Regions from separate parts of the Homo sapiens genome. Here region 2 is linked to region 1. The links come from fine-mapping of genetic effects on gene expression. A gene starts in region 1. The other region holds a variant in brackets. All regions are shown on one strand. Distances are from middle to middle.

Region 1 (8,000 bases):
CTCTGTTGGTTCTTGTTTTTAGACTGGACTCTCAGGTGCAACAATATTATTGTTACTGGTGGAGAGTACTGACTACAAATCACCCAGGTTCTTGGCATTTTGAACAAAGAATTGGACAAAATTCACAAACAAAGCAACAAAAAAGTGAAGCGACAAAAGCATAGATTTACTGAAACAAAAGTACACTCCACAGAGCGGGAGCGGGCTCAAGCAAGTGGCTCAAGAGCGCTGGTTACAGAATTTTCTGGGGCTTAATTTTTTTATTTTTTTGAGGCGGAGTCTTGTTCTGTCACCCAGGCTGGAGTGCGGTGGCACATTCTTGGCTCACTGCAACCTACACCTCCCAGGTTCAAGCAATTCTCCTGCTTCAGCCTCCCCAATAGCTGGGATTACAGGCCCACACCACACCTGGCTAATTTTTGTAATTTTAGTAGAGATAGGGTTTCACCATGTCGGTTGGCCAGGCTAGTCTGGAACTCCTAACCTTGTGATCCACCCTCCTCAGCCTCCCAAAGTGGTGGGATTACAGGTGTGAGCCATCGTGCAGCATGGGGTTTAAATAGCCTCTAGAGGTTTCCCATTGGTTACTTGGTTACACCCTATGTAAATGAAGGAGTGGCCCGTCACAAGTCTGACTGATCATGGGAGGTGACCAATCAGAGTCTGAAGTGACGGTAGTTACAAAGTTACACATGAAGACTTGGCCTGCAACCAGTCTGAATGGTTGTGGGAGGGGACCAATCAGAGGTACTTTCCATTTTTCATTTGCAGTGCAGTGCAAAGGGAGTAGCCTCTGATCCTTTCGTTACATTCGTGTGAAGAGGTGGGGTTTCCCCTCTGATTCAGTTCTAGGAAGTCAGTGAGAATTGGCCTTAGGTTCCCTGCCTCTAGACCCTATTCTCCTGTCTCATTTTCCCGCTGTGAGACATGATCCCCATAAATCTTTATGGGAGGCAGAGGGACCAATGGTCTTTCTTCTGTAACTGCTTCATGCTGACTTGGGGTGCGGTGCCTACCTATTTGGGATCACAGAACTCTCACTCTGCTCTGTCTAGTGGATACAGGGTAGCTTCTTGATGGCCAGTAGTGGTGTCTTCACCTGAACTGGCTGGAAACCTTGTTGCATGATCATCTGAAGCTTGATGGTCTCTAGGCGAGAGGAAATTAATTTGGTTAATGTATTTAATAAATATGGTCCAAAAACCAAGGCAAGTATAATTAACAACGAGCCAGTCAGAGGAAGGACTCATGAACCCCTAATTAGCATTTTTGAACAGGAGGACCACGACTTGGACAGCTGTTGTCGTATCTTAGAAGCCTGGTCAGCTAATTTCTGGGTGGCATCCCTTACTAATTCTAATTGGTTGACATAAAAACAGCATTCTTCCTCTAGAAAAAGACATAAGCCACCTTTTCCAGCAGTTAGGAGATCCAGTCCCCTTCTATTTTGTAAAGCAACTGCTGCCAAGGAGTCTGTTTGAGTTTGTGTTGTGACGATACTTTGGGCAATGTCATCCAAGCTTTCCACAAAATCCTTGGAAAGTGCTGGTAACAGTATAGGGAAGTTGCAAGCCCGGTAACTCCCGTTCCTGCTCTCACTGTTATTCCTAGCCCAACAAAAAGGCGTTTGAGTTGGATTGCTCATTTGTGTCTGGCGGTTGCAGTTAAAGGTATAATGAGGGATTGGTTGTTGAGAGCTCTCCCTCTCTCTCTCTAAATATATATATATATATACACATATATATATAGTTTGTTTGTTTTGAGACAGTCTCCCTCTGTCACCCAGGCTGGAGCACAGTGGCTCAGTCTTGGCTCACTGCAACCTCTGTCTCCAGGGTTCAAGTGATTCTCCTGTCTCAGTCTCCAGAGTAGCTGGGATTACAGGTGTGCGCCACCATACCCGGCTAATTTTTTGTATTTTTAGTAGAAACAGGGTTTCAGCATGTTGGCCAGGCTGGTCTCGAACTCCTGACCTCAGGTGATCCGCCTGCCTCGGCCTCCCAAAGTGCTGGGATTATAGGCGTGAGAAACTGCGCCCGGCCGGGAGCTATATTGATTTCGGAGGCTAAAAACCAAGTGTACAGGTTCCAGTCCAATTGGCTGGTAAACACAGTAGGAACTGGTGCTGCACAGGGAAAAGGTTCCTTGTTTTTCAAGACAAAAATTGTTTTCCATGGTGAACATGTGGGTTAGCTTGTTGTTTTCACTTTCCCAAGTGGTTAAGTTTCCTACTAAAGTGGCCAAGCGAAAATGTCAACCCAGCTAGTGGGCCCACCTTCACAGTACTTAGACTGTGCATCCTTTAAAGTGCCCTTAACTAGGGATGGTTTCCATGAAAAGCATACAGGTTTTCTAAACGATGCAGTTTGGTTAATTGCATAGCTTACATGATTGTGTGAGGGTTAATTTCTGGGGTGTGGTTGCATTGAAGACTTCAAGTTCCCACGACCTGAACAGAATTTTGGCTTCTTTCAATACAAAGTGGCATCTGGAATTTTAGCTCTGTGTATGTTGATGTTGGGCCCCTAATGGGTTTCTGTGGGAATGCACCCTCAAAAAGGTTGCTCTGATTGGACTGGAGAGGGTTTACTGCTCATCCTGTCATTTTAACCTTTGTCATTTCCATACTTTTGAAGTCTTATAAGTCATCCAGATTCATTAATTCAAAGGGAGTTCCTCCCTGGTAGTTGGAATGATAGGTCATTTTTTTCAAGGACCCAAGATCGGGCTGGGATAGGGATGGCAGTGTATCTGGATGAAGATAGGAGATAAACAAAGCCAACAGTCCTTTGCCAGAGCTGAGCTGGTGGTATTTAACAGTCTTTGCATTAAATTTAAAGTTCTTAATAAATACCCAGAATCTATTAATTGCCAGAGGGGTAAAGTGAAGCTCTGTTGTAAAATAAAGCTGATTCCCTGTATGCGGTGTCCCTGTGTATACTGGGTGTATACTGGGTGTCCATTATGGAACAAAAAAAAAATACTTATTTGCTATTTTGTTCTATAGAATGGGAACTTCAGGGGGTGGATACCTGTGCTGTCAGGAATGCTAGTTATAAAAATGAATTAAAACACTTCATATATTACAAAGGAAGTGATTCCATCTATTTGGACGAAAGCAATTAAACTGCAAAAATATAAAAAATGGCAACTATTATTCAGTCTACAGTAACTATGCAACAAAGACACCAAGGAAAGTTGGTAGGCATTTACGTATCTCACTTAAAACAAGTCTATAAAGTGGTTTATTTTAAGAAGGGTACATTTTAAGAAGGACAAAATCAAAAGCATGGACAAGTGTTGGATGAGCTGATGAGGTTGTGGCAATTTACTTTGTGAATACTGTGAGAGTTTGTCCAACTCGCTGTGCTTAGGTACTAGATGGTGAGGATTTAAAAGGTCAATGAAGTCACAGCAGACCAGCACTCAAACATATTTCTCTTCTATTTCCTACTTTTGAATAAAAATGTCAGAAGTGGGCGGTGGGAAAGGAACAAGCAAAGGAGTAATTATTTGAATAAATTTTTGGCGAAACGTGGGTGTCTGACGGGGAGGCTGTGCGGTGGTGACCAACGCACCCATGCGCTGGGTTTCACAGATGCAGACTGAAGTCCAGGCTCTGCTGCAGATTAACGGGGTGGCCGCCAGCAAGTCAAGTGACTTGCTCTTCTGTGCACTGCATGTACTTGGGTTCCTCTCACAGGTATTCCTGTTTTTCCTCTTTCTTGCTCCAGGTTACACCTCGTGGCGCGGCGCTCTCGGAGAGCCTGTGGAGTGGCCCTGTGTCCCTCCCTGACCCCTGGAGGATTCCGTAAGGTCACAGTCACCGCCTCCATCCCCTACTTGCCATGTCTTCAGGGCTAATGCATAACAATTATCACAATTTACAGCAGCCCCACGCTCTGAAGAGCTTCTGGAGGGGATACTACTCAAGCGGAGGAAGGCAAGACAGGGACCTCCTCCCTCTTCCCGGACCTCTTCTGATAAGGAATATTTGTAGGTGGTTAAGAAAGGCAGCGGGAGGGCGTGAAGGCAAAGACAAGCTTTTTTTCTCGTAGGAACACACATCTTCTGGTCTGGCTGTGTTTCCGGAGGCATTTCCAGAGGACCTAGCGAGGACCAACTTCCGGCTGCGACTTCCGCGTCTTCCGAGTTTCGAGACCTGCTGCTTCCGCCCGGAGTTGTTGTGGGCTCCAGCAGCGAGTAGCCACTTCCGCTAGGAGTCCCTAGCGGCCAGGGCGTGGAAGCGGATTCTGAGGCGGCTTTCTCCTACTGCCCTCCGCTTGCCAACGCGGGACCCGGAGCCCAACGGCAGCGGCGGTCCTTGGGCCTGTGGAGAGGGGTTCTCTGTGGCCGAGTCCTAGGCCTGGTGAACCGCGCGGTGCGGGAGAGGCGCTTGGGCCTCGTCCAGCCCCAGCCCCTGTCTCCCCGCGGCCGGTGCCGGCGGCTGTAGGCCTCGCCGCGCCCACCCAGCCTGGGGCGGGCCCAGCCTCACCGCCCGGCCCGCCCCGCCCCACGGGCCAGCCCCGCGCCGGGTGTTTCCGCTACTTCCCTGCGGCGGGGTAACCGCCTCGCACCTACCGGGCTCGGTTCCCTGGCTCCGGCCGCGGGGGAGCATGGAGTTTGCGGAGCTGATTAAGACCCCGCGGGTGGACAATGTGGTGCTGCACCGGCCTTTCTACCCGGCTGTCGAGGGCACCCTGTGCCTGACGGGCCACCACTTGATCCTGTCCTCCCGGCAGGACAATACGGAGGAGCTGTGGCTCCTCCATTCAAACATCGACGCCATCGACAAGCGGTGAGTGCCCGCCCCACCCCAGCTCCGCAGGGAGCCGGGGGTCCCTTGTGGGCGCCCCGGGAAATACTTCCTGGCGTTTTCCGCGCAGCCTGCCGCCCAGCTAGCCGGCAAGATGAGCCCTCTGTGGCCTAGAATCAGGATTTACCAAGCTGAAACCCGTCCAGATGGAGGACCCGGTTTCCATTAAACCTGGATGGAGTTCTCAGGGTTATCGTGTGGCTGGTACCATCCTGATGATCATTTCTGGTTCGTAACACCATTTGGGTGGATTTTCGGCATTGTCTTTATAAATTTCTTCTTCTTCTTGCCCCATCGTATTCCTTGAATTGGTATTGTCAGTCACCGTTCATGAAGTGATTGGATGTGATTTAGGTAAAGTCTTTACCATTTCTGAGGAAAACTAAACAGATTATAAAGTTATGAGTGTCTACATGCTACAGAACCATTTTTTTAATTTCTGAAAAATGTTCAGTGTATCATATTATTTCTTACCTTCTGGGTCATCAAAATTTAATTCTCACTAAGGGAGATTCTGATGTCTTCTCTTCATCTTTACTCAATTCTGCTTGCTGAAAGAACAGGGTTGGCTCTCAAGGAAAGGCATGGACCAGTTAACCTCTTTTTTCTTTTTGTACTCCAGACTTTATCTTTCCAAGGCAGTGCCTCGAAGTCAAAAAGTTAAACTTTCATCTGCATTCAAAATTCCCATCTCCTTAGTGGCTACTCGCTAGCCAGGAGAGGGCAAACTGATTATCCGTTTTACACAGAAGTATAAATGAATGACGACAACATTTTCTATTGCCTCACAGGATAATTTGGATATTAGGAAGATTCGTACAGAGGATATGCCTTAAAATAATAATCTCTTTCTTTCTTTCTTTTTTTTTTTTTTTTTTTTTTGGAGACGAAATCTCACTGTATTGCCCAGGCTGGAGTGCGGTGGCCAATCTCGGCTCACTGTAACCTCCACCTCCCAGGTTCTAGCGATTCTTCTGTCTCAGCCTCCCGAGTAGCTGGGATTACAGGCACGCGCCACCACACCCGGCTAATTTTTGTATTTTTTAGTAGAGATGGGGTTTCACCATATTGACCAGGCTGGTCTTGAACTCCTGACCTCGCAATCCTCCCGCCTAGGCCTCCCACAGTTCTGGGATTACAGGCGTGAGCCACTGCGCCTGGCCTAAAATAAAAATTTCTAATGGTAGAATTGCAGGCAGTTTGGGTGAAGCCATGGTAGATTGATTGATTGATATGAGCAGGGGGCTCTTATTAGTCTCCTCAAGCCACCTTTTGCTGTATAAAGTCTTCAGTGGGCCCGGCACGGTGGCTCACGCCTGTAATCCCAGCACTTTGGGAGGCCAAGGTGAGCGGATCACCTGAGGTTAGGAGTTTGAGACCAGCCTGACCAACATGATGAAAGCCCGTCTCTACTAAAAATACAAAAAATTAACCGGGCATAGTGGCAGGTGCCTGTAATCCCAGTTACTCAGGAGGCTGAGGCGGAAAAATCGCTTGAACCTTGGAAGCAGAGGTTGCAGTGAGCCGAGATCGGGCCACTGCACTCCTTCCTTTGCAACAAGAGCAAAACTCCATCTCAAAAAAAAAAAAAAAAAAAAAAAAAGTCTTCAGTGGTCTCTCATTGAAAATCTAAACCCCTCAGTCATTCATGGCATTCTGTGTCTCGGCCCTATCCTACTTTCTCACTTTATTTCTTGCCATTTCTTTTAACGAGCCTTTCTTGCACTTGCTTTCATGAACGCTTTTTACCAGCCAGTCCTCACTATTTACTGGTGCTGGTATATGTCCTGTATTCTGTCATCTGTGTATTTTATTGACTTCTTCCTTCTGCTGGAATGCCTTGCCTCTCCCAAGTTTGTTTAACATTTGCCAAATGCCTTTATGTTCTGGACGTTTTGTTAGGCATTTAAGACACCAAGGTAAATAAAATATGTTACAGTTCTTGTCTTTCAGGAGTTCACAGGCAATGAGCCTGTTACCTGTCTATGAGTATTCAGTTTAACCATTTCGACCGCTACCTCCTTCACAAATTCTTCTGTTAATTCCACAACTGGAATTCATTTTTATCTCCTTCGAAACGTCTAACTGTGGCTTGGGCATATAGACGCGTAGGAAACAAAAGAAGGATTGACCGCTGAATGGTCAGATGCCGTTGAATACAACTGAGTAGTTTCTCCATGACCATCAACTACCTTTCCTTTCTTATTTACCTTTTATGGTGGTTACTTTGCGCTCATTTGTTTCCTCCTTTTTACCTTGCATTTACAAGGTGCTGGGCTTTGTAGTACATGAAGAAGAAGCAGATGAGCCATGGACCTTTGAATCTGTTAGGAGAGAATGACGAACTGTACACACATTTATCCTTTTCCTGGGAAGCAGCGTGGTGTAGTGAAAGAGCATAGGGGAGGCATCAGATCAGAGTTTGTTAAATTGCTGCTTTCAAGAAATCTTTACATCCACCTGTTTTCCACGTGCATTGTCTGAGCTGTGCGGCTGCAGTGGTGACTAAGACAAGATGCTTAGGTACTGGCCAGGGAGATGGACAATCAAGCAAGTCCAGAAATAAATATATATATTTATTAGATATATTTATATTTATTATGTTTATTATATATTATATATATTATAATATATATTATATATTATATATTATTTTCTTATATATTTATTATTTATTTATTATATATTTATTATATATTATATATAATACATATTATATAATACATATAATATATAATATATAACATTATATATTTTATTATATATGTTATATATTATATTATAATATATAACATATATAATACGTATTATATATAACATAATATGTATTATATATTATATAATATGTGTTATATATCATACGTATTATATACTATGTATTATATATGTATTATATAATATATATTACATATAATACATAGTATATAATACGTATGATATATAATATATATTATATAATACGTATTATATAATATATATTATATTTCACCTATATAATATATATAATTATTCACCTAATTATATTAAATAATTATTCACCTAAATATTCACCTAATTATTCAGCGAATAGGTGAATAATTATTTATTCACCTATTCACCTAATACATGTAATTATTATATATAATATATTAATAATTATAATATATAATAATAATAATTATATTATAATAATTATATATTATAA
Region 2 (11,457 bases), 42 kb before region 1:
CCTGGGCTCAAGTGATCCTCTTACCTTAGCCTCCCAAAGTGCTGACATTACAGGCATGAGCCACTGCACCTGAACAATGCTCTGTTTCTTGATCTGGGTATAGATTCCATGGGTGTGTGTCTTTTGTAAAAAATTATGCACCTTGTGATAACACTTGTGACTTGTATACTTTTCTGTATGTATATTATATTTCAATAAAAAGTTAAAAAGCCACGATAATGAAAAGAAAAGGCAAAATAAGCAGAACCTTGGGCCCTACCCAGGCACACTGAATTCATTCCCTGGGGTAAGAGTCAGGCTGTAGCCGGCCTCCAATGGCTCCCTCTGATCTTTACTTCCTAGTATCCACAATCTTGTGTAGCCATCTCACTCACCAAATAGAGCTGCCCTGTGTAACCAGTAGGATATTGTGGAAACAATGCAATGTGACTTCTGGATCTAGGCCATATATGGCATTTTGGCTTCTATCTTGCTCTCTCTCTCTCTCTGAGGAAAGCCACCATATCATGAGGACACACAAGAAGCTTTATAGAAAGGTCCGCGTGGTGAGGAACTGAGGTCTCCTGCCAACAGCCAGCACCACCTCGCCAGCTATGTGAGAGGCTCCAGCCCCAGTCAAGACTTCAGATAACAGAAGCCCCTACTGACATCTTGACTGCAATCTCATGAGAAATCCCAGTGTCAATACTAACACCACCTAGGAAAACTGCTGCCACACTCTAGACCCACAGCAACGTCGTGATATAATAAAGGTTTGTGATTCAAGCTGCTAAGTTTTGGAGTAATTTGTGAAGCAGTAATACATAAACAATAAGATCAAGACATACATTTTTTTAAAACTCCTAGATTTGGATGTGCAGCTATGCTCGGGAGCCTTTGGCATGGTATTCTGCTCCTATAAGTATAGCAGCTATCATTTTGTGCTATTGATATTCCTTGCTGGTCTTCACTGCTCAGGTGTGTGCTCACTCAGTGAAGGAATGATGTTTTGTTCATCTGGGTACCTTCAGTACTCAGAGAGAACCTGGCACAGAATGAGTGGTCCATCAGTATTTGTTTAATTGGAGTGACCCTTCCAATAAACACAGAGAGTAGGACCTACGACTGCCATCAGCCACCTAAACCATTTCAATGTATCTTTTTCATTCAAATAGTTTATTTTATTTTTATTTATTTATTTTTTGGGGGACAGAGTCTCACTCTGGCACCCAGGAGTACAGGCTGGAATACAGTGGTATGGTCACAGTTCACTGCAATCATGAACTACTCTGGGCTCATGCGATAATCTCATCTCAGCCTCCTGAGTAGCTGGGACTACAGGCATGTGCCATCATGCTTGGCTGATTTTTTTTATTTTTTGTAGAGACAAGGTTTCACTATGTTGCCCAGGCTGGTCTTGAACTCCTTGACCCAAGCTATCCTCCCACCTCAGCCTTCCAAAGTGCTGACATTACACATATGAGCCACTGCACCTGGCCTCAATATATTTTAAAAGAGTCTACTTTGAGCCCAACACTGGGCTCATGCTGGAGTTGCAAAGAAGAGGAATGTCAGCCCTTGTAGCCAGGTACTTGGTCAAGCAGGTGACATCAAGGCGGCAGACATTGGAGACACGCAGGGGCACATGCCAGGGTTTGTCTAGGAGCCTCTGATGAAGTGATCAGTTCAGCTTAGGAGGGCTGAGATGTTTCCAAGAGTAAGCAACGCTTGAGCCATGACCCAAAGAGTGACTGGGGGTGGGCCAGCTGGACAAGGAAGAAAAGGGTATTTGGGGAAGAGAAAAGAACCATGTGCCTCAGCAGAATGACTTGAAATCACATGCAGTATTGGAGTAAAATGGCAGGAGGGTGAGAGATGAGTATGGTGGTAAGGAGGTTGGATGTATTCTGTAGGTAACAGGATCACCGAAGCATGAAGTAGAATTTAACACAACCCAGTTTACAATTTTAGAGAGATACCTCTGTTTGCAGTGTGGATGATGGATTATAAGGAAACACTGAAGATTGCAGGGCCTCTTGGAGAAGGTAAGGACATTGTAATTGTCCAGGCAGGAGAAGGTATGGGCTGGCTAGGCAAAGTCAGGAAAAGGGGGAGGAGGGCACAGGTGTGAATAGGATGCTCCTACAGGCCGAAAATAAAGTTGAAGGACTGGAATCTGAAGCTTCTCCACCTTCTCCAGTAAGAAGGTTGGAGGAAGGAAGGTGAGTATGAGATATATTATCCAGGCAGTGTGTTCTTTTAAAAATTTCCTCCTAAGAACCAGAAAAAGATGGAAAAGCAAAAAGGCGAGGAGGGGTGGGATTCAAGAAGAAACTCAGTACATATGCTAATGTCACTTGGGAACTGTAAGCAGCTCACAATTTCCATCTATTATCATGGGTGAAGATATATTTCCAGCCGAAAAGAATAATTTTTAAAACATGGGTGTGAAATAAATGAGCACATGAAACCGTGTTGTCCAAAAAAAAAACCCCAGCAGAATGTTTTCCTTAGAAAGCAGCCTTTGGGTGACACTGCCAGCAGCCTGCAGCCCTAGCAAGGATCTGTGCTTTTGTCACTCTGTGATTTGCAATGGGAAAGAAGCTCGCTTATCTAAGAAATGCATCTGAAACTCCATGGCTGGCAGGTGCTTAAGAGCACGGAACAGATGTCTGTCGAATGTACCAAAAGTCGTAGATATATATTGGAAAGTACAGATGCACTACATCTTTGCTACCGTAGTAGAGAAAATATCTCAGATATGCACCAAGGGGCTTCATGCATTGACCTTGCTGACTTCTCTTCTACAGGACTTGGAGCCCGCGATGGGAGCTACTTAGAGACCTGTGTTCACTGGCATTCTGAAGGACCTTGCTGACCCCATCTCCAAGCAAGACTGGAGCCAGCTAACCAAAGATTTCGGTATGGTGTCTGAGGTTCTCTCCAGTCTCATGAGCCTTGCATTTGCTGGTGTTAATGCTGCATCCCGAGTCCCCCTTTTCTCACCTGCCTCCCTCTCACAAGTTTTGGAGCACTAACCTGTTGCCTCTCAGGCTCCACTGCTGTCTAGTCCACCAGTCTTACTGACAAGGCCCCAGTGTACTTTTTTTGGCTGCCTGGCATCCCTTAGACACCTCTCCAGGTTGACTCTCCTCAGTCCTGGAATCCACTCACTCCCCTTTCTCTTTTGGCAGAGAGATGATGTCTTAGTCCATTTGGGCTGCTATAATGAAACAGCACAGTCTGGGTGGCTTATCAACAAGAGAAATTTCTTTCTCACAGTTGTGGAGGCTGGAAGTCCAAGTTCAAGATATCAGCAGAGTTGGGTTCTCCCGAGACCTCTCTCCTTGGCTTGCAGATGGCTGTCTTCTTTTTTGTCCCCACACAGTCATCCCTCTGTGCATGGCTGTATCGTAATCTCTTTTTTTTTTGAGACAGAGTCTCGCTCTGTTGCCCAGGCTGGAGTGCAGTGGCACGATCTCAGCTCACTGCAAGCCCTGCCTCCTGGGTTCATGCCATTCTCCTGCCTCAGCCTCCCCAGTAGCTGGGACTACAGGTGCCTGCCACCATGCCCAGCTAATTTTTTTTTTGTATTTTTAGCAGAGATGGGGTTTCACTGTGTTAGCCAGGATGGTCTCGATCTCCTGACCTTATGATCAGCCCACCTCAGCCTCCCAAAGTGCTGGGATGACAGGTGTGAGCCACGACACCCGGCCCGTAGTCTGTTTTTATAAGGACACCAGTCATATTAGATGAGGGCCCATCCCAATAACCTCATTTAAACTAAATTACCCTTTAAAACCCCTATTTCCAAATACAGGCCCATTCTGAGTTACTGGGGGTCAAGGCTTCAACATAGGAATTTGGGGAGACACCATGCAGCCCATAACATGAGCTATTGTGTTAGACTCCTAACTTCTCTCTGTGCCTTTTTCCTCACCCTCTGGTCCAGCTGCATGGTACTTCTACCACAATCTTCCTCGAACACACGTCTGAGCATGCTGCTTTCCTGCTCAGCATCCCACACAAATGTTCGTGACTCCCTGGCTTGGTAACAAGGACCCCCATATTCCACTCCAAGCAGCTTCTGCTGGAGCTCTGACTCCCACCAGCTCTGCCTCAGAGCTCTTCCCCCATCTTGGCCACTTCCTCTATGTACCTTCTCCACATGATGATGTGAATGGAGCTTGGATGACCTGCTCTTCACACACTTCCTCTAAGGTACAAAGTGGGCAACAGCTTTCCACAGGAAAACACCATGGCATGAGATGTTGACTTGAGCAGCAAAAGACCATGGAGAAAATTGTGAGAAACCTGCCTGGGAAGCCAAAGGGCTACTTGCACTTTGTTAAGTCCTTCTCTCCATTTTGTCTTCTTCAGAACTTGCCTTTTGCTCCTCCTCCCTCAAGCAGATGGTTGAAGATATATGATCACATTTTTAAGTTGAGTGTGAATGGGATTGAATTCACTCACAGCTATTTGGGGCCTTATTGCAGGAAGTCAGGGACCCCGAACGGAGGGACTGGCTGGAGCCGTGGCAGAGGAATATAAATTGTGACAATTTCATGGACATTTATCAGTTCCCAAATAATACTTTTATAATTTCTTATGCCTGTCTTTACTTGTGTCTTAATCCTGTTACCTTCATAAACTGAGGATGTACGTCACCTCAGGACCACTGTGATAATTGTGTTAACTGTACAAATTGATTGTAAAACATGTGTGTTTGAACAATATGAAATCAGTGCACCTTGCAAAAGGACAGAATAACCACGATTTTTAGGGAACAAGGGAAGACAACTATAAGGTCTGACTGCCTGCAGGGCTGGGCAAAAAGAGCCATATTTTTCTTCTTGCAGACAGCCTATAAATGGATGTGCAAGTAGGAGAGATATCGCTAAATTCTTTTCCTAGCAAGGAATATTAATATTAATACCCTGGGGAAGGAATGCATTCCTGGGGAGAGGTCTGTAAAAGGCCACTCTGGGAATGTCTGTCTTATGTGGTTGAGATAAGGACTGAGATATGCCCTGGTCTCCTGCAGTACCCAAAGGCTTACTAGGGTGGGGAAAAATTCCATCCTGGTAAATTTGTGGTCAGACCGGTTCTCTGCTCTTGAACCCTGTTTTCTGTTGTTTAAGATGTTTATCAAGACAATACGTGCACCGCTGAACATAAACCTTTATCAGTAGTCCTGCTTTTGCCGTTTTGTCCTGTTCCCTCAGAAGCATGTGATCTTTGTTCTGCTTTTTGCCCTTTGAAGCATGTGATCTTTGTACCTACTCTCTGTTATGACACCCCCTCCCTCCCCTTTTGAAACCCTTAATAAAAAACTTGCTGGTTTGAGGCTCAGGTGGGCATCACGGTCCTACCGATACGTGATGTCTCCCCTGGCGGCCCAGCTGTAAAATTCCTCTTTGTACTCTTTCTCTTTATTTCTCAGCTGGCCAACACTTATGGAAAATAGAAATAACTTACATTGAAATATTGGGAGTGAGTTCCCCAGATAGGGGCTTCCATGGACTGAATTGGGTCCCCTCCCAAATTCATATGTTGAAACACTAACCTCTAATGTGACTGTGTTTGGAGATAGAACGTTTAGAGTAGTGATTTAAGGTTTAAAAAGAGTGAGGCGCTAATCTGATGGGGCTGGTGTCCTTACCAGAAGAGTAAAAGATATGAGAGGGCTCTCTCTCCACTTACCCACAAAGGAAAGGCCATGTGAGGATGGCGCAAGAAGGTGGCTGTCTGTAAGCCAGAAAGAGAGCCCTCACCAGGAGCCAAATCTGCTGGCACC[T/C]TAATGTGGAACTTCCAGGCTCCAGAGCTGTGAGAAAATACATTTCTGTTAAGTTATACAGTCTATAGCATTTTGTTATGGCAGCCTCAGCAGACGAACACAGGGGCTTTCCCAAAAGGAGTTGCATGTTTTGCCTGGTTTTGCTGATAGTGAGACCTGCATGGCTCATTCATCAGCAACTCTTCCTTTGTATGAGCATCCTGGCTTGGACTCCTGATGTCTGTCCCTCCAGAGGTGGATGTAGAGTGATCCCTTAAGGAGGCCATTATCACTGACCAGTGACAGAGAGAGGAACAAGCCCCTTTCCTTCCTGACCCATGAGACTGGTGTTGGTTAGGAAATATCAAGAGCTGGGAAAGGTTTGAGATTTCACCCTACTTGCAGTCTAACAAGTTAGCCTGCCACACTTTCAAGGTTGCTGGCAGAAGACACAACAGAGGCAGAGACAAAGGACTTCATTACTCATAGCAATAGCAGTAACCAAGTGTCAGCATTTGTGTTCATCTCCCCAGTCCCAATTCCTGCAGGCTAATGTGACAAGAGCCAGGTGTTATCTCCAGAGGCAGTGGGTGACTTTCCTAGAGAAGAAGCTCAAGCTTTGGAAGCCCAAGCCTTTTATATTGGGCAGTAAGCTTGTATGAACTTTGCTCTGGAGGGAGACGAAATCTTTATCATTTTAGACAGTAAACAAGCCTGCCCTTTGCTGCTGATGGAAACCCTATTGCTCTCTTACAAGGCTGCTTGCCATACAAGTACCCTGGTGGTGTATCTAGTGAGATGTGTATGCTAGTGCCTCTGCTTCTCTGATTGAACTCTGATCGACACTGGCCCCTAATCCGTTTCAATAAGCTATGCTATTTATTATCCCTAGGAAATATTCCTTCTAGATAATGGAAATGGTCCTGGGACCTACACTTAAACATAAATATCTGGTGTCCTGGAACTTGACAATATGTCTATTGTGAAATGTAGGTTTCAACATGATTCAGAAGGCAACTGCCATTGAAAAGATAGTTTGTTACTCACAGTTCCCAAGAGAAGGGGCAAGGCATGCCACACCACGTGATGGTGGGAGTGGGGGACACATGGAGAAGCACTGGGGTTGACCAGGAGGCAAAGGTAGAGAGGAGAAGTGTGGGTAATAGCCTTTACTGTGACTTCTGCAGGAAAGAATAGGTGAGGCAGGTGAGCAGGCTCAGGATTGGCTAGTGTGAATCCTTTCAGTGGGCTCTGGGGCATAAAGGCTGCTCCTAGTTGCCTGGAACGTAGCCTTGCAGTGATGGTGGCCCAGAGTGCAGGAGCCCCACAAAGGAGGTGGTTGGGAGGTGGGGTCTGGGTGGCTTGGTTCGCATGTCAAAGGCATGCTCACAGAAGAGCTCTTTGCTTCCACTAAGAATTGGCTAACCCTGGGTGGGGCAGTCCCTCCAGCATCAACAAGTCCCCAATATGGCCAAGCCTCAGAATAAAAAGGCTTGCTTAATACGACATCACACAAAAACTACACCTCACTGTGAAGACCTAACTCCAGAAGAATGTGGAAAACTAACCAAACACCTTGCCTGACATCATCACTCAGCCTTCTGCCCTCTCGGTTAATCCAAGGTAGCTGGGCAGCATATCAGCTAAGGCACTTCCAGAGTTTAAAAGCATCTCACTACATAGCTGGTCAGTCAGTCAGCAAGTGTCCCGAGTGGGTGCTGTGAGTGAGGCATGGTAGGGGGTGCTGGGGAGATGGGGGGAACCAAACACACCTGGCCCTGCCTGATGGCACTTAGGATCAAGCTGAGCCCATAACCCCTGCCCCCAACCTGAGCAACATTCACTTGTCTTCTCAAATAAAGGGAGCATTTCTTTGGGGGAACATGTGGGCCTGAAGACACAGCACATCTCTGCCCACGAGGCAGCCTGGGGAGGAGGGAAGACTCTGCCTTCTGGAACTTCTTGTTCCTGTCAGAGGCATCTCCAGAGTTTTCTCAGCAGCCTGTGTGCATCTTCCATCAGGAAGACCCAGATGTCGTTTCTTGGTCACATTGGAGAAACTGTGTCTGCAGGTGGCTCAGCTCATCTCTGTGATGCTCTGCTCTGATCTTTTGGAAAAGTTGTTAAAGTGTTTTTGTAGCTTGGAAGGGCATCTAATTTGGGGATTCGCCTCTGCTCTTAGTCTGTCACTCGCTTTCTATCACATTCTCTGGAGGTAGGGCAGAGACTGTTTTAAGCAATGCTCTCTCTTCCGTTGGGCAAGGAGCCAGAATGACTTGCAGCTGTTGACTGACACGTGCTGCCCAAGAAAGTGTAGGACACTCCTAATTATGCAAATATGAACTTCTCATAAAATAGACGTCAAAGCCCTAGTTTTTAAATCTTGTTGCAGTAAAATGTCTTAATTTGGGTTTCTGGAAACTACTACGATCATCTTAGGAGATGTATAAGTACACGTATATAAGACATTAAAATCACAAGATCGTTGTAGATCATTTGCCCATCTGCCTTGGTTCTGTAATTGAGAAAGCATAGTTCCTGGAGTCTGGCCTAAGCATGAAAACATGTCACAATGACTCTAGGTTAGCAACAGTCTGCAAAGTGCTTACTTCTGGGGGCGAATTTCAAATTAAGTTATTGTAACACCTTGCAGTTCACCTAAGCATTAGGTCAGAGGCTGGTGTTTGGGAGAGTGCCTCCAGAATTGTCTGGAGTGCGTCTAGAAATCCCATTCTAGGGCTCTGCTTTCAGAGATTCCGATAGGATGGGTCTGGCGTGGGCTCGGGAGGGTATTTTTCAAAAGTTGCCCAGGTCCCTGTGATGAAAAACCTGGTTTGGGAACCATCGGTTTAATCTGAGAGTTTTGCTTTTTGAATATGGTCTCCATCCCAGAAGCTTCAGCACCTCCTGGGGACTTGTAGACACACCAAGCCTGCATCTTCACAGAGTCCCCAGTGGATTCTCAAGCCCGTGGAAACTTGAGAAGTACTGGCTGAGGGCATCCACAGGCCCAGGTGAAGTACATGGGAGAGAATGACGATCTCACTGCTAGTTAATCAGGAAAGCCTTTATGGAGAAGTTGGGATCTTCAGCGGATAGAAAAAGCAGAAAACAAACCACCGCCCCTATTTGACTGATGAAGAAGCACAAGAGGTAATGGAGAGGCAGAAGGATTTAGGGAATGAATGAAGAGTGTGCTGACTCAGTTGAACGAAAACATGGAACACAAACTCTATGTCATTGGCATGTTGCAGCTCATGCCTATAATCCCAGCACTTTGGGAGGCCAAGGTGGGCGGATCACTTGAGCCCAGGAGTTTGAGACCAGACTGGGCAAGATGGCGAAATCCCATCTCCTAAAAATATGAAAGCTAGCTGGGTGTGCTGATGCATACCTGTAGTCCCAGCTACTCAGGAGGCTGAGGTGGGAGGATCACTTGAACCCAGGAGGTCGAGGCTGCAATAAGCTGAAATTACAACACTGCACTCCAGCCTGGGTGACAGAACAAGACCCTGTCTCAAAAATTAAAAGAAAAAAATGTAAATCAATCAGAAGTTGAAGTAAAAGTAAGTTATAATACAGTAATATGTATTTCGGTATGTGAATACTTGGGCAGTATATTAACCATGTCTTTTACTTTCTGAATTCTCATGCTTTGACACTTGGGCCTTGTGATATGGTTTGGCTCTGTATCCCCACTAAGTCTCATGTCAAATTGTAATCCCCACATGTTTGGGTAGGAACCTGATGGGAGGTGATTGGATCGTGGGGGTGGGTTTCCCCCTTGCTGTTCTCACCATAGTGAGTTCTCACAAGATCTGATGGTTTAAAAGACTTGTTTGCTTCCCCTTCACCTTCCACCATGATTATAAGTTTCCTGAGGCCTCCTACCCACGCTTCCTGTTAAGTCTGCAGAACTGTGAGTCAATTAAACCTGTTTTCTTCGTAAATTACCAGTCTCAGGTAGTTCTTTATAGCAGTGTGAGAATGGATGAACACACGTTGCTTACCCCAAAGGGGCTGCTGTTACGACATGGGATGTGGCAGTAATAATGACACATCACAGCAAATGTGTCTCTGAACTTGAAATCCCACCACAAGTTGAAGCCTGCCTTCTGTCTCAGCATGTCCGGTAGGATGATGGAAAGTCTTACCAGTCCTGGGTCAATTTCTCCTTGTGTGACCTGTCCTGAGCATTGCAGGATATCCAGTGTCCTCCCGACTAAACATCACTAGTGCCCTCCAATCATCATGGCAACCAAAACTTCCTTCAAAGATTTTCAAGAGATCCATGATGACAAACCACTAAATTGGATAACTCCCAAAGCACTCCCAGAACGAGCTCACTTCGATTCTAAGATCTCTGGGGTGTCACAGGTAAAGGAGATTGCCAATGAGATTTAAAGTCTGGGAGTTACTATCGCAGGCCATTGCCGTGACCTGACCAGAACATAAGACACAAAGGAACATGAATCTAAGAAGGAAATATGGCAAACCAAGCCAAGGCATTTACTTTTGAGGGCAAATCACAAGCTTTAAGGGAAAAATAAAAAAAAAATTACTTTTAGATCTTACAATCAGAATTGTGCAAGTAACTATAATTCTGGAAGTATGGTTCAGGGTGGGCACTCCTCGAGCCCCCAGGCTCTGAGGTGTGGAGCTGGTAGTGTGTCCATGGGGGTCAGGAGCTTGAAATATTGTGCTACATATGCCAAGTATGCTCACTCCATATGTCTCTGGAGAGAGGAAAGACAAGCAGCTCCACCCCTTGCTGTGTGGCTGTGGTCAATTTACTTGACCTCTCTGAGCTTATTCTATAATTAGTAACGCTGACCTCATATTCCTAATGTATAGGTAGTTGTAAGGATTAGATATTGCACACAAAGGACTTAGCTCAGTGCATGGTACTTAATAAAGGATGAATAAGCTATATGATAAACTATTCATTTTTTATACAGTATCGGATCATTCTCTTTTCAAATTTTCCACTAGAGGGTGCCAAACACTAGCCTGAAACTTGGAAAAACTGTTGTCCAGACTCCCCCTGCCCCAAACACCCAATTTGTAAAACATGCTCTCAAGATCCTAAGCACTGGTGTCAGCAAAAAGACTTGGCAGACTCTCCATTTGCTTTCCTCTTCACCCCTGAGAGGTCCTACACCTAAAATAAAGACGCTCAACTTCAAGACTGTTAGTTTTAATTAAACACTTCTTACAGGTGCATAGATAGTGTTAACTGTGATGTTGCCATGGCTTTAAATCAGCTGCATACACAAGACAGAGCTGCAGGGGCCGCCTGCCCCTGAGGCAGGCAATGAGGGATGTTTGTAGAGAATTTAAACACAATAACACAGCTGACTAAAAGTCAGTTCGCTTGTGATATCACCAAGTGCTAGCAACTCTAAATAACATCAGTGATAAAATACTGTTCTGCAAAAAAAAAAAAAAATCTTTTGTTGTTCAAAGTTCCAAATAATCTCTGCAGACATGATGGCATCTTAGCAATATGTATGTAAGCTTCAATTTGATACATTTCTTACTTACCATTAATAATTTTAATATATCTGGAAGTTAATTCAGAGAACTCCATGTGGTACAGAAGCGTCTTCCTAGTGGACTCAGCCACATACATTTTGTTGTTATCTGTTCACACACAGCGCCAGCCCGGAGTTTGCACCTTGAGCGACAACTGTCTCCAACCC

The links.
Region 2: its variant is fine-mapped to the expression of MTMR9 in whole blood (INTERVAL, PIP 0.98).

The regions. Positions count from the first base shown.
Region 1 is chr8:11,280,273-11,288,272 of GRCh38, forward strand. It overlaps MTMR9 (myotubularin related protein 9), which reads left to right and starts at 4,544. Exons shown (of 10, transcript NM_015458.4): 1 at 4,544-4,798. The coding sequence starts at 4,617. It overlaps LINC00529 (long intergenic non-protein coding RNA 529), which reads right to left and starts at 3,759. Exons shown (of 5, transcript NR_170283.1): 1 at 3,579-3,759; 2 at 1,017-1,149. RefSeq lists silencers at 681-730, 4,223-4,632 and enhancers at 3,513-3,602, 3,693-3,752, 4,028-4,529.
Region 2 is chr8:11,236,327-11,247,783 of GRCh38, forward strand. LINC00529 (long intergenic non-protein coding RNA 529) reads right to left here. Exons shown (of 5, transcript NR_170283.1): 5 at 10,938-11,457. Among named protein-coding and RNA genes, the nearest start is that of XKR6, 40 kb to the left of the region's middle. The variant T/C (reference allele first, on the strand shown) is at 5,777.